Regions from separate parts of the Homo sapiens genome. Here region 1 is linked to region 2. The links come from fine-mapping of genetic effects on gene expression. A gene starts in region 2. The other region holds a variant in brackets. All regions are shown on one strand. Distances are from middle to middle.

Region 1 (4,383 bases), 22 kb before region 2:
AGCCAGAATAGAAAACTGAGTCTCAATGAGGTGAAAGAGTGTGAGGGTGTGTCTAAGGTCAACCAGCAGGTATAAAGACAGGGCCCCTGAAGCTAGGGTTTGAATCCTGGTGTGTGAGACCTCAAGTGAACAGTTCCCTTTTCTGAGCCTCAATCTTCTTATCTGTAACACAGCGTTAACCACTGTCCTGGCCTCCAGTGGGAGGATGTGTATAAAGCCCCTCCAACAGATGCTTAGCAAAAGTAATTGTGGAGTAAGGCTACCTTTGGGGAAAGTTGGAGAAAAACAGGGGCATGAGAGGGGCTTCTAGGATATAGTAATGTTTCATTTTGTAATCTCCAGGCTGGTAATACAAGCTCATTTGTGAAAACTGTACATTTATGATCTGTGCACTTTTCTATTAGGTGCACAAGTTATATATTATTCCCAATCTTTTGCTATATATTAGTCCAGGTTTTTACTTTTGCACCAACCTATTTTTGCACCAACCTAATAAATGTATGATAAATTCCGATAAAAAATAAGCATAACACATTAAAACACAAAGTAAATATGGTTCCTCTTTTGGGTTAGGCTGCTCACCTCCACCAGGGCCTGCAGGAGGCGCTGCGTCAGGGCACCAAAGGGGCATCCATCTTCCGGCTGTTCATGCTGGGCCTCAGACTTCTTCAGCAGGGCATCCACATCTAAGCGGGCACAGGAAAGGAGGGGAGGTGGGCTGAAGTTCTGGAATTCAAGTCCTGACCTGGGGTTGGCAGGGAGGTGAGAGGCCTACCTTTAGTGTCCAGTTCGGTCAGTGGCCCCATGAGGCCTTTCTTCTTGTCAGCCACAGCCGCTGCCCGGGCCCCATCCTTCTGCTCCTCCAGCAGGTCCTCCTGGGCCCAGCGCTGGGAGTAGTGCTTCCCCAGGGGTGGGATCTGTGGAAAAGATGGCACCCAACCCTGAGTGGGTAAGCACTGGCCAGCCATGCTTCATTCATTCATTCACTTACCTATCTTATATCTCTCTCAAGTCCCTAGTCCAAGGCCAAGCCCAGTGTCAGGTGTAGGTAAGAAAGTACAACGAAGATAAAACCTGTACTTCACACTCTAGTAAGGGAGACAGGTCCAAAAAGAACTAAGACACACACACAGAAGCCAATCTGAAATAATTCCCAAGATAGAAGGTGCAGAATACGTACACAGATTGTCTCAGGTCACAGCAATTGCCTCTCGAGAGAATTAGGAGCCTTCAGGTCACGGGTGACAGGGAATTACCTTTTGTATTGCTTGAATTTACTGCTGTCTGTATGAACTCTTTTTCAGATAAATTTTTAAGAAATCAGATAAGTGAAGTGAAAGAGAGAGATCAAAGTGTTGTGGCAGCACAAAGGAGAGACTGACTAACTTTCTGCTGGGGAATCTGAAAGAGTGCTTTGGTGGAGGTAACATGAGATCAGGGCCTTGAAGGGTGAGTCAAGTCTGTCAAGGAGACAAGAGGGAGAGAAGAGCTTGCCAGAGGCCCAGAGACCAGCGAGGAGGCTGTGGTGTCCTGGAATGAGGGCGAGATACTTGGTGGGACTGGTCAACACGGCAATGAAGAGGGATATGGCCGAGGAAAATGGAGAGGGGCACTGGAGCTGTGCCAGCAAGGACTGGGATGCGTGGACTTGATCCTGTAGATAACGGGAGGAAGAAAGGCCTGGATGCAGCGCCATGTCATGAGCACATCTGATCATGACAGCTCACCTATGGGAGGATTCTCCCTCAACATTTTTCTGTATTTTCTAAATTTTCTTTAATGGAGCATGTTTTATTTATTTTCATCATTAAAACATAGTTTTATATCTTCTTTTTTTTTTGAGACAGAGTCTTGCTCTGTCACCCAGGCTGGAGTGCAGTGGC[A/G]CAATCTCAGCTCACTGCAAGCTCCGCCTCCCGGGTTCACGCCATTCTCCTGCCTTAGCCTCCCGAGCAGCTGGGACTACAGGCGCCCGCCACCACGCCCGGCTAATTTTTTCTATTTTTAGTAGAGACGGGGTTTCACCGTGTTAGCCAGGATGGTCTCAATCTCCTGACCTTGTGATCTGCCCGCCTCGGCCTCCCAAAGGGCTGGGATTACAGGCTTGAGCCACCGCACCCGGCTTTTTTTTTTTTAATGGATGGAATCTCCTTCTGTCACCCAGGCTGGAATACAGTGGCACGATCTTGGCTCATTGCAACCGATGCCTCCCCAGTTCAGGTGATTTTCCTGGCTCAGCCTCCCGAGTAGCCAGGATTACAGGTGCATGCCACCGTGCCAGGCTAATTTTTGTATTTTTAGTAGAGACGGCGTTTCACCATGTTGGTCAGGCTGGTCTTGAACTCCTGACCTCAGATGATCTGCCTGCCACAGCCTCCCAAAGTGTTGGGATTACAGGCGTGAGGTGACTTTTATATCTTTTTTTTTTTTTTGGAGACGGAGTCTTGCTCTGTTGCCCAGGCTGGAGTGCAGTGGCGTGATCTCGGCTCACTGCAACTTCCACCTCCCGGGTCCAAGAGATCCTCCTGACTCAGCCTCCCGAGTAGCTGGGACTACAGGCGCACACCGCCATGCCTGGCTAATTTTTTGTATTTTGGTAGAGATGGGGTTTCACCATGTTGCCCAGGCTGGTCTCAAATTCCTGAGCTCAAGCAATCTGCCCGCCCCGGCCTCCCAAAGTGCTAGGATTGCAGGCATAAGCCACTGCTCCCAGCCCAAGTTTTATATCTTAAAGAAAGAAGAAAGGTTCCTCCAGAGGCCTCGAAACAGGAAGAGAGTTAAGAGGCTGTTTGGATAGAAGTTGATGAAGGCTTGGACCAAAGCAGAGGGGATGGGGATAAAGGAACATGGGCAGACTTCACTTAAGTAGATGCTTGAGGGCGTGTTGACATTTGGCTGGGGTAGAGGGGAGGCAGTGCACGGAGAAAGCTGAGTTTGGGCCTAGGTGTCTGGAGGCACTGATGGAGCAGACAGCAGACTGGGCAGGGTTGGGGAAGGAAGATGATGCATGGCTTTGGTAGCTTTACTTCTCAGGCACCTCTGAACTCTCTTGTTCCGCATCATGTCTATCAAGGCCCAGAGTTTCTACCTTGTAATGCTCAGCCTCATCTTCTGGGGGCTTCAGTAACTCCTCAAGTGTGCGGACCTCCTCGCTGGTGATGTCAGCACAGTAGGGCTCCACTGAAGCCCAGAACCTGCAGGGAGAAGCAGATCCTGAGTGGGCGCCCCTGCCCCACCAGTGCCTCCACCACCAGAACCTTGAGGCCCCCTTCTATGTTCTCTAGCCCAGAACCTGTTGGGGGCATCATTTTTGGGGATCCGTGGCACGTCGATAGGGTCATCAGTGAATTCATATTCCTGGATCTTGGGCTGAAGGTTTTTGGATTTGGGCCGTCCTGGGCCAGGGCCCGGCCCATGTCCTGCCTTCCCTTCCAGTTTCTGCTTCTTGGGCTTCCCATGTTTGGGGGGAGCTCCAAGTTCATGGTCTCGACCCAGCTTCAGGAATCGTCTGTCACCTTTCTTATCCTGCCAGTCGGTGAGGATCTGAAATTTACAGAAAGTGTCACTGAGGGGGAGAAGGGAAAACACAGAATATCTCTTTCCTCTAGTGAATAAATTAGGATCTAGAATCTACAGAGGCTCCTGGGTCTTTCCCCATCCTCTTTTTACCTAGTAAACTCTTACTCATCCTTCAAAATTCAGCTCATTTTCTGTGCCTGGCCTCCTAGAACTTTATTCATATACTTCTCATAATCTCATTCACTTGTTCATCTATACTGATTCACTTCTGTATCACCCATGCCAGTCACATACTGTTTAACAGAAGAGTCCTCTCAGCAAACCTTCACTTCGATGTCACCACTACTGAGATGCCTTCTCTCAATCAGTTACCCAGGTTCTTAGATGCTAAAATACAACTTGAGTCATAGCCTTCCTCAAGGAGGGTCCATGGATTCCCAGGGACAAGTTAATTCCATTCATCCTTTTAGGTCCAGTTGGCACCTCCTTCCTCCACAAGTCTCTGGCACTTCACAGCTCCAACGTGCACCCAATCGTGTTGTTTGGTCACACTGGAATGACCATCACACCTTGTCTCTTCAACTAGACCATAAGCTACTGAGGACCAGAAAGCCCACCTTAACCATCTCTATTTTGCAGAATACAGCATAGCGCCTGGCACACAAGGCTCAAGGCATCTTTATGCAGTGAATAAAGTCATCAGAGTAGCAAATAAATAACATCTGAAGTACTTACTTAGTGTCTGGCATTGGGCTGAGTTTTTGCAAAAAATTCTCTTTTAATCCTCACAAAAGCACTAAGGTAGGTCCTATTATTCACCCCACTTTGCAGATAGGGAAACTGACACTCAGAGATATGAGGCAACTT
Region 2 (4,383 bases):
CAGTGAATGTTAAAGGTGCTCACAGTGAAACTGGGTGACTAATAGGATATAGCAGCTGGTCACTCAACAACCCTCACAGGACAGCATTGCCTGGGTGAGCCAGCCACAAACCTCATTTGTCATGTATCTCTCTCCCAGGGTCCAAATTCCCTAAATCACCTTTCCTGGGGGGCATGCTTTTCGGGAAGTCCAGCCATCAGCTAAAGGGGAGTTGGGGTCAGCTGGACAGGAAGGTGGGGGATCCACCTTCACTCTTAAGAGCACATCTACCCAGTGACTGACAAAGCTGGGCTCTTACCAGGACACTCTTCGACTCTGCCTGCGGGGGCACTGCTAGAGTTTGCCTCTCAAACTGTCCCTGTGTGGTCCTTCTGTGACTGGCAGGCAACCTGAGTGATAACAGGTGTTTAAGAGACAGGCTTTGGAGTCAGACCTGGGTTCCAGTGCTGCCTCTGCTCTGTGATTTGAGGCAAATTGTTTAACATCTTGGAGCCTTACCTCCCCTGTGACTTTTGAGGATAATATTTTGCCAGTGCTTCCAAAAAGGTTGCTTACAGTCTTAGCCTGGGGGCCAGGCATAACTGTTGTGAACTATTACATTTCTTTCGCAGTTGACTCAAATGATTGTTTTTCCATTTCCAGTTTCTGGGGAGGGTGTGCTCTGCACCTTCTTGTTACCCCCATATGCTGCCCTCGCTAAGGACCTTACCCTAGGCCCATCTGCCAGGCCCAGCAGGTCTGATCTGGCCTCACCAGGCTCCAGCCACCCTGGCTGTCTTGTAGTTCGCACAGAGGTTCTTACCCTTCTCAGGGCTGTTGCTGGGACTGTCCCTTCCCTGAAGTGCAGTTCCTCCCCTTTCCCTGGTGACTCCTGACTCCTGGCATTTACACCTTCAGCTTAAATGCGCCACTTTATCTAAAATGCGCCCCCTTCCTGGTTTCACCTCTGCTTGTTCATTGCCCTTATTATACCTGTAAACTATTCTCTTCCTTTGTTACTTGCTTTTTATTCCCCTCACACTGGGCTTTTAGTAAGCTCCATGAGGTCAGGGGCCATTTGTTAGCGCCTATAAATACTGTGGAATCACTCAAACCCTAGGGCCGGTGGCACCAGGAAGTACTGGATAAGGAACCGCAACACTAACTAACTGGGGCTCAGTGCTCTCTTCCGCCTTCAGTGCCCTGCTCATCAAGGGTCTGGGTGAGGCCCCAGGTCATAAGGAAGCCCTCGCTCGACTGCCCCGGGGCCCATCGCAGCCCCCAACCAGCCCCGAGCGGTCTGATGGTGCCCAGGGAATGGTTTCCAAGGCAATAGCAAACGGGGCGGGGCTTGGAACGGAGGACAAGGCTCGAGCCTAGGCAGGAACTTCCCGGGAGAGGAGGCGGCGACGCGGAGGGGCGCGGGATCAGGGGCCCTGGGAGGGCGAGCGCGGCGAGGGGCGCATGCAGGGCCCCGACGCGCCACTGCTCCTGAGCGCGAGGGAGCTGGGGCCCGGGCGCCGGGGCTCGGCCTCCTGGTACCGCCAGGAGGGCGGCGCGGTGTGCAACTGGCTGCGGAAGCCGCAGCCGCTCGAGCCACGCACCAGTTTCCCCTCGGCGCGCCGCTCCGAGTTCCGTCCACCCAGGAGGCTGCCATGGGCCGGCCCTGCCTCCGCCCAGTCCGAGGAGGGTCACGCAGGCGGCAGATGCCAGGCGGGCAGCCCCGCCCCTGCGCGCCGCCTCAGCGGCGCCTTCAAGACGCTGGTCCCAGGCACCCACGCCCAGGGCGCCTCGGATACCCACCCCCTCGGCCCCCCGCACACCCCGGTCCTCGACCCCTCTCCGCAGGATGGTGAGGCCCGTGCGGCCCGCTCGCTCTGGCCTACAGCGGCTGCGAGGACGACAAGACGCTGGGGTGGAGGGACTGGGGGTCGGGAGAAGAGCGGCTGAGGGTGGGCATCTGGATGAAGGCAGGAGGAAGAAAAGAGGCGTGGCTATGGGCGGCCAGAAAAGATCCTAGGCCGAGACCCTAGGCCCAGCCTCAGTGTACCCCGCCCCTATTCCGCATCTTTCTGCAGGTTTCCCGGTCCTCTGGCGAGGATCCTCCAAGGCGTCTCACATGAACCGGCTCAGAAACGCCAAAATCTACGTGGAGAGAGCTGTCAAGGTCAGAGGAGGGGCAGGGGCGCTTAGAAAGGGCCCTGGGAGCGGCTCAGCCTGTCTCCCTGCGCTGTTTTCTTATATCCTTAAAAAACAAAAGCAAAAGAAAAAACAATAGCAAAAATCCTCAACCACCACACCCATCTTCAACTACCTCCCCGTTTACCCCTTCAGCACCAAACTTCTGGGCTCCCTCCACTCTGGTTCCCTGCGATGTCCCACTCTAATCAAGGTGCCTGGTGAGTTCCAGGGAGCCAAACCCAGCAGTGCCTTTCGGTCTTGATCTCGGTTGGGCACCCTGTATCTTTCGACACCGCTGCCCCACACACCCTTCCTCTTGGCTGTCTGACTGCACGCTCCTAGTTTTCCTTTCTCCCTCTTTGGCTGCTGCTTTTCAGCGGCCTTTAAAGGTTCCTCAGCCATTAGTGGCCCCCTGGCCCCTTCCCCAGGTCTGTCTCCTTTGGCTGTGTCCTTGGCTGAGTCCAGTCAGTGTGCTGCACCCTCTCCGTGCCCCTTCCAGCCCAGCCTCGAACTCCACATCCCGTAGATCTAGCCCCTACCTGTCATCTACACCCAGAAAACTTAACAAGCATTTCAAATTCATGTCCCAAACCAGACTTTGATCTTCCTGCCCAAACCTGTCGTCCTCCCCAGTCTCCAGTCTTTCCCATCTCTCAGTTCCTCACGCCAGAAATCTCATCTTTCTGTTTCTTCACCCACAGGTCTAATTCCATCAGCAAAACCACTTGTCATCTCCACCTCCAAAACGATTCTCAACTCTAGCACCTTCTCCCGTCTGTGTTGTAACCACCTTCATTTTAGTAATTGTGATTTCTCTCCTAGGCAAACTATGACAGCCTCCTAGCTGGTCTACCTCCATCCTGTCCCCTCATCTTTTTGTAATACAGCAGCAAGCCAAGCTTAGAAAGATTCCCTCAGTTAGCCTTTTTTGCTCATGACACTCTTAGTATGAAATCCAAGTCCGTTCCAAGGCCTGCAGGGCCTTCCACAGTCTGGCCACTGCCTACCTCCTCTGGGGCTTTCCCCATCATTTTCCATGTTCCACTCACTCTGGTCTCCCTTCAGTTCCTTCTGACCTCTCTCCAGCCTCAAGGCCTTTGCACATGCATTCCCCTCTGCCTGAACCGCCATTTCCCAGCTCTGTACATTCATGGCTTCCTTTCAACCTTCCCTGACCATGTATTTCTAAGTAGTTTCTCTGGATCCCATTAAGTATGCAGTTTCTGGAGCCAAACTGCCAGGATGTAAATCCCTGCTCTTTTGCTTAACCACTATGGGGCCTCAGGCACCCTGCTTAATTTCTCTATGCCTCTGTTTCATAGCCCGTAAAATGGAGATAACAGTATCTAATAAAAATGCATAGTATTGGCCAGACGCGGTGGCTTACACCTGTAATCCCAGCATTTTGGGAGGCCAAGTCAGGAGGATCACTTGAGGCCAGGAGTTGGAGACCAGCCTGGCCAACACAGTGAAGCCCAGTCTCTACCAAAAAATATAAAAATTATTTGGGCACCAGATGAGGTGGCTGACGCCTGTAATTTCAGCACTTTGGGAGGCCAAGGCGGGCCTTGGCCTGAGGCCAGGAGTTCAAGACCAGCGTGGCCAATATGGTGAAACCCTGTCTCTACTAAAAATACAAAAATTAGCCGGGCGCAGTGGCACACGCCTGTACTCCCAGCTACTGGGGAGGCTGAGGCAGGAGAATCGCTCGAACCCGGGAGGTGGAGGTTGCAGTGAGCCAAGATTGTGCCACTCCAGCCTGGGCAACAGAGCAAGACTCCGTCTCAAAAAAAAAAAATTATCTGGGCGTGGTGGCATACACCTGTAATCCCAGGTACTCAAGGAGACTGAGGCAAGAGAATCGCTTGAACCCAGGAGGAAGAGGGTGCAGTGAGCCGAGATTGTGCCACTACACTTCAGCCTGGGCAACAGAGTGAGACCCTGTCTCAAACAAAACAAAATAAAAACACACAGTATTGTTAGTAATGCATGTAAGTGCTCAGCATGTAGTAGGTCCTCAATAAATATTAGCCATTGCTATTATCATTATTACCATGCATATTTATTTCTCTACTTATTTATAGTCTGTTTATTTCTCCTAATGGAATATAAAAATTTCCTGATGGCAGAGTCCATAACTGTCTGGTTCACCTTTATATCCCCTATGTCTGGCACTTATGCAATACTTATTGAAGAAGTATCCTTCTCTCACATTGCAGCAGA

Evidence for each region. PIP is the estimated chance that this variant, and not a neighbour inherited with it, causes the effect.
Region 1: its variant is the best candidate, but not a certain one, in a credible set for the expression of TTLL3 in nucleus accumbens (GTEx, PIP 0.54).

The regions. Positions count from the first base shown.
Region 1 is chr3:9,786,424-9,790,806 of GRCh38, forward strand. It overlaps TADA3 (transcriptional adaptor 3), which reads right to left. Exons shown (of 9, transcript NM_006354.5): 3 at 3,290-3,540; 4 at 3,086-3,191; 5 at 776-917; 6 at 583-686. It also overlaps a transcript of OGG1 not described here. Among named protein-coding and RNA genes, the nearest start is that of TADA3, 3.9 kb to the right of the region's middle. RefSeq lists an enhancer at 4,377-4,383. The variant A/G (reference allele first, on the strand shown) is at 1,884.
Region 2 is chr3:9,808,564-9,812,946 of GRCh38, forward strand. TTLL3 (tubulin tyrosine ligase like 3) reads left to right here and starts at 1,699. Exons shown (of 14, transcript NM_001387446.1): 1 at 1,699-1,831; 2 at 2,058-2,146; 3 at 4,380-4,383. The coding sequence starts at 2,099. ARPC4-TTLL3 (ARPC4-TTLL3 readthrough) reads left to right here. Exons shown (of 12, transcript NM_001198793.1): 5 at 4,380-4,383. RefSeq lists an enhancer at 771-920 and a silencer at 1,401-1,880.